Regions from separate parts of the Homo sapiens genome. Here region 2 is linked to region 1. A link means that fine-mapping ties the variant in region 1 to the plasma level of a protein whose gene starts in the linked region. Region 1 holds a variant in brackets. A gene starts in the other region. All regions are shown on their reverse strands.

Region 1 (2,921 bases):
TGTCTTTTAAAATTTCTTTCTTTTCCTCTCAGGACCTCATGCGAAGCATATGGTAAATAGTTAGTGACTGCTGCTTAACTCAGTTTATCCTGACCAATACACAGAACAGCACCAGCCACAATTAGGTATTTAATAAGGATATTTTGGATTGAGACAAGGATCCTCTCAGAGTCAGACATTGTCTTGGCATGCCTTTTTTTTTTTTTAATTTATTGGGTCTCTGTGACTGTAGTCAGTGACTTGGTGTGTCTTTTGTAATGACAACATTAATAATAAAGCCTTCAGATGACATGGTGTAATGGAGTTCAAAAGGTCTAAGTCTGAATGCCAGCCCTGCCACTTATTAACTATATGACCCTGGGCAGGGCACTGTGAACTACAGTTTCCTTGTAAAAGAATGATGTTCATGGGGGCCTTAGAGTGGTTGTGAGGATTAAGTTATATGCCAAAAGTAAATTATCTAGCATAGCAAATGGCTGTAATAGGTGTTCGATAAATGTTTTTTTTCTTTTGAGACTGAATTTCATTTTGTCACCCAGCCTGGAATGCAGTGGTGCAATCTCAGCTCACTGCAACCTCCACCTCTCAGGCTCAAGTGATTCTCCTGCCTCAGCCTCTGGAGTAGCTGGGATTACAGGTGCGTGCCACCACGCCCGGCTAATTTTGTATTTTTATTAGACATGGAGTTTCGCCATGTGGCCAGGCTGGTCTCGAACTCCTGACGCCAGGTCATCCACCCACCTCGGCCTCCCAAAGTGCTGGGATTACAGGCGTGAGCCACCATGCCCAACCCAATAAGTGTTTTTATTACAGAAAATTTAAAATCTCCGTCACTTTTTACTTTATTGATTTTCAATTTGCTTCTTTACCTGGATCAGAAAGATAATTTCAAATTGTTTGGAGGTTGAGTATTTTCTGATAGTGAGAAGTTGGTAGACATTCTATTAACAGAGATGATTTTAAAAATATTTTTGGTAATTAACTGGACCATAAGAAAACAATACTAAACAAGCCAAATTACTCTTAGCTAAGGCTTGGAAATCTGGAGAAAGAGGAAGAAGAGAAGGAGAGAGTCCTTAGATTACTGGTAGAAGCATGACCTACTAACTCTTCTTTTAGCACCCGTGGTGGTAAGGAAGTCCCGCCTAAGGACTTCTGCCTTGGCTAGGGAATGTTCCAGTGTTGGGTTATGAGCCTCCATGGCAGAGCCACAGCACTGACTCTCTGACCAGCTGGAATTTGCTGCAGAATGGGTAGGGCTGAAAGGAGACCACTGTGAATTAGAGTTAGAACATCAAGACTGATCTTTATTTCACCCAGAGGCAGAGTGATAAAATGGCATTCTTCTCTATTTAAATTCTATCCCATCTTTCTTCTTGTCCTTCCTCTCAAGGTTGCTGGCAGAGGTGGTTGGGGCTATGTGCCTGGAGTGAAGATTCTGCCCATTGGTCAAGAGACCTCCCTCTCAGATGCTGGCTCTGCCCCTGCCTTTGGGGGTC[G/A]ACCCTTGTACTCGCAGGACCTTAGGTGACTCTGTAAGTATAGTAAAACGCAGTTAATATGATGTTATCATTCAATCATTTTTAAAAAGTGGAGCAACCAGTTGACAAGGTAAGACTTTTTCCTGACATCTGTGGTTGTTTATTTAAAAGAACAGACAATATTTAAAATGAAAGACAAACTCAGAGGTTCAAATGCATCCAATAACTTGAAGCAGCAGTGACATATACATCCAAAGATGATTGTAGCTATTTAAAGCCATATCTTGTTTTTCTAGGCAAAAGTACAACATTGGTTATAAAGCATATACCTTCTTTGCACTATAGGGCAATGAAAGGCAATCCTATTATTCTGCTTCTCAAAAATCAATGGTCTTCAAAGTCATAGCAAAAAGACTATAAAGTGAGACTAGAGAGTAATTTCCTCATAAAATTTCGGAACAAACTTTGCATCACATTCCATAATATTCCCTTGTCAATTATTTAAAAAGTTTTATTAGCAAGCCTGCTTCTATATTGCTCCCTCTGCTTTTCATCCTTATCATTAAGCTCGGAGCTTCTGTAAACTAAGAATTACTCAATCTAGGCTCAGCAAAAATAAACAGAATACTTCTATATGAAAGCCTGTTGCAAAGAGTAGTTAATGAGTAAACAGAAATTTTTGACTTATGAGAAACACTCTCACTCAGAAAGGGCAGTGGGAGTATTTATTTGATATAACTAGCCCATTTTGGGAATAGAAAGTCAATTAATTTATGTCCCCCCTTTCCTCCCTTTGGCCAACCTGTCTTCTTTCTTGTTACTTTGAAATCTGGAAGTTTTTCTTATTATTTCTTTTTTTTTCTTTTTTTCTGAGACAGAATCTTGCTCTGATGCCCAGGCTGGAGCGCAGTGGCACGATCTCGGCTCACTGCAACCTCCGCCTCCCGGGTTCAAGCAATTCTCCAGCCTCAGCCTCCTTATTATTTCTATTCCATTAATAAGTTCAGCATTTAATCTCTTGACTTCCCTTATTTTCACACACATTCAAATACCAAGTGCCACAGTTTATTAAGAATGACAAGAATCTTTGTATGCAAATTCATGACATATGTTGTAAGGTACATATTTGTTATCAGAGAAGCCAATTGCAGCAGGCCATACGGCACATTAGTTTGTCTGTTTACTGTGCTAGTTTAGAAAACTTGGGAAGAAGATTCAGAAAAGAGTTAGAATTGTGGCACACAATTTTATGCAGTCCGTGGAGACTGATGGTGTCTCCACTGGGAGTCTCACCACTTCTCTTTAGACTGTTCCGAAGCTGCATGGTTTTTGGTGCATTATATCAGGATATTTTCATCTGGACAATGGAGAGAGGGATATTGATACTTTAATAAAGTATGAAAGAAATACCCATAGCCACTTAAATTAAGAAAGGCCATCAGT
Region 2 (2,921 bases), not on the chromosome of region 1:
CCTAGAACTATCCAAATGCATGGTTTGCTAAGTTAAATTTAAACCAGTTACTTTCATTTTTGAAATGGTTCCCTAGCGGTCCAGAGTAAAACTATGTATGGTGTTCCTAACAGATACTTGGATTGGACCCAGACACTATAAAATGCCTAGCACTCTTTTGAATTTTCAGATAAAGTTTAATTTTTTACTGTTGATAATAAAAATAGAGGACTAATTTTTTTTTGTTTCAAGTTTTGCTTTGCAGAGTGTCATCTGCGAACAGAAGTTTTTGTTAACACAAGTCCCAAGACATTCCTACTTCTGAGCTCCTTCCTCTGGTCTGCAACATATGTCTACAGCAATATACCTGACAAGTGGTCCTTGTTGTGGAACATTAAATAGACACGTGTCCTGAATCATCAGGGACAATCTCCACCCCCGAAGCTGTATGTTCAATAGCTTTCTCCAGGGGTGGTGCCACTTGCTTGGCTACTCCTGTCTTAGCCTGAATTCCATGTTTTATAGATAATTCACTTACCACAGGAAACTGTAGCAAACAAGGAAATGAAATAAGTTGCTTGCTTGAATAAAATCATTCTAAAAAAGAAAACAATACATAACTCTGCTGGTTTTAGACCACATTTAACATAAATCTTAATTTAAGGTGATTTAGATTTTCTTGTAAATGTCTGAATTGCAAGACAAAGCACACAATTACTGGTATAGAAAACAAGGGTTTTTTTTTGGTACATTTGTGTCTAGGGAGTTGGAAAATTTATAATGCTTCCCAAGATACAAATTGAGACCTCCAGACTACTGTTGTGTTTATTGTTCATTGGCCAACTCTGTGGCTAGTAATGTTGGAAAGGGAATTGGTAGAGAGAGAGTAAACAATTATGAAACCTCTTGATTTGGGCAAAAACAAAATTAATAAATAATGGCAATAATGTCAGTCCAAAAATCCCTAAGTAAAGAAAACCTCTGAAAATATTAAAGCCCATTTAAAAATTTTAAATCAATCAAATATTCTTTCTGATTTAAAATCATCTTACATTTAAATATTTCTACATAAAGGAACATTATCTATACTCTCTACATACTCAGGAAATTAGAATATAAATGATTAATTTTCTCATAAAGTAAAAAATTATACTTAAAAATTATAGTTTATTTGGAAACAATCAGAATAATAAAAATTTGCTACCTGAAAACACAATTGCTTCTTGGAGGTGAGTCTCTTGTCACTTAAAAATGAACGGTCTTCAAGCTGTTCTAATGTGGCACTGCAGGCAATATTTTGCTTGGCTTCAATATTGACTTTGGGTTTCTGCCAACAGTTTCAACTTTTTGTCCTGTCAACATATTCCATGAACATCCTATCCGTGTTCAGCTGTTAAGTATATTAACTATTTCAGGGAGTGATGTCAGCAAGAATAGGAATAGGAGTTTGTCAGAACAGGAGTTTCTAGCGCTCATCCCTTGCAGAAACATCAATTCGAACAAGTATCCATGCACGAAAATAACTTCACTAGAGCTAAGGAATCAGGTGAGAGGTTATGCCACCTGGTTGCAGCACAGAAATAAGAAAAGACACATAGAAGTGTATAGGAAGGACAATTTCACATTACCGGTGTCATCTCACCTTCAAGCCTGGGCAGCACAGTATGGAGAGAGATGCCCTCTTGCATGGAGGAGGGACAGTTAAGATAGAACCTAACTTCACCACAGATCCCAAGCACCAAGCCCACTCCAGTAAACCCCAGCACCAGGATTCAGGCCTGCCACAGGCCAGACCAGCCTCTGTGGCCTCAGCCCCATGCTCACCCCAGACCAGGTCAGCCCCTGGGGCTTCAGGCTCCAAGATGGCCACACAAAACCTAGACTTCAGGCCTGCTCCAGCTCTAGCCTGGCCCCCAAGACTCTATCTAGCCTCCACGTTAGCCCCAGCAACCCCAGGCTCCAAGTTGGCACCCATGGGCCTAGAATCCAGGCCATCCCCTGCAGATCCAGCACCAGGTCAGCCTCCAGAGATCTTGGCTCCATGCTGGGCCATGTGGACCCAGATGCTGGGCTCACCCCAGTGGACCTTGTTCCCAGGACAGCCTGAATAAACTCAGGAACAGGCCTATCCCCATGAACTCAGGTGCCAGGTGATCCCCATGTTAGGCTGGCCCCTGCAGACGCAGGCTTAAGGCTCATTTCAGTGCCAAGTCAGCCCCCAAGGATCCATGCTTCAAGCCAGTCCTTGTGCACAGAATACAGACAACCACAGTGAATGAACCCAGAATCCAGCCCTTCCCACCTTAGAACTCCAGCAGAAATCCTGTGCATAGACCCCAACAGACAGCCCACCAACAATCTCTGGTCAATCTGACTAGTGAATGGCTTTCTCTGCTGAAGCTAGTATGTAAAGACTGAAATAGGTGCCTACTTCAGTGCAAGGCCACACTGATCACAAATAATCGGGGAAACAAGAAACCACCAAAGGAAGGAAATAAAGCAGCAGGAGGTGACCCTAAAGAAATGGAGATCTTTACTGCATGACAAGAGCTAAAAATAATTGCCTTAAGAAAGCTCAATAAGCTACAAAACAATATAGATAGACAGTAAACAAAATCAGGAAAACAATACATGAGCAAAATTAGAAGTTCAACAAAAAGATAGATAGGAACCATAAAAAAGAATGAAACAGAAATTCTGGAGCTAAAGAACAAAATGACTGAATTGAAAAAATTCACAAACAGCTTCAGCAGCAGACTAGATCAAGCAGGAGAAAGAATCAGCATGCTCAGATACAGGTCATTTGAAATTACCCAGTCAGAGTAATAAAAGGAATGATAAAAATTGCAGAAAGCTGACAAGACTTATAGGACACTGTTAAGAAAATTAATATGCATTAGAAGAGTTCCAGAAGAAGTAGAGAAAGAGAAAGTTGCAGAAAC

Which allele goes with the higher level. Positions count from the first base shown, and alleles are read on the strand shown. Strength reflects both the effect of a copy and how common the allele is.
In carriers of allele G in region 1, the plasma level of the protein whose gene starts at base 1,264 in region 2 tends to be lower than with A alone (moderate association).

What was found. PIP is the chance, under the fine-mapping model, that this variant and not a neighbour inherited with it causes the effect. Protein levels are from antibody-based Olink assays in UK Biobank. Linkage for the fine-mapping came from a reference panel and not from the study's own genotypes, which makes the PIPs less certain.
Region 2: it holds the start of KLKB1, and the variant in region 1 is fine-mapped to the plasma level of the KLKB1 protein (UK Biobank, PIP above 0.99).

The regions. Positions count from the first base shown.
Region 1 is chr3:186,742,314-186,745,234 of GRCh38, reverse strand. It overlaps KNG1 (kininogen 1), which reads right to left. Exons shown (of 10, transcript NM_001102416.3): 10 at 825-2,921. The coding sequence ends at 2,904. Among named protein-coding and RNA genes, the nearest start is that of KNG1, 26 kb to the right of the region's middle. The variant G/A (reference allele first, on the strand shown) is at 1,500.
Region 2 is chr4:186,225,850-186,228,770 of GRCh38, reverse strand. KLKB1 (kallikrein B1) reads right to left here and starts at 1,264. Exons shown (of 15, transcript NM_000892.5): 1 at 1,184-1,264; 2 at 518-576. The coding sequence starts at 575. RefSeq lists an enhancer at 2,087-2,757.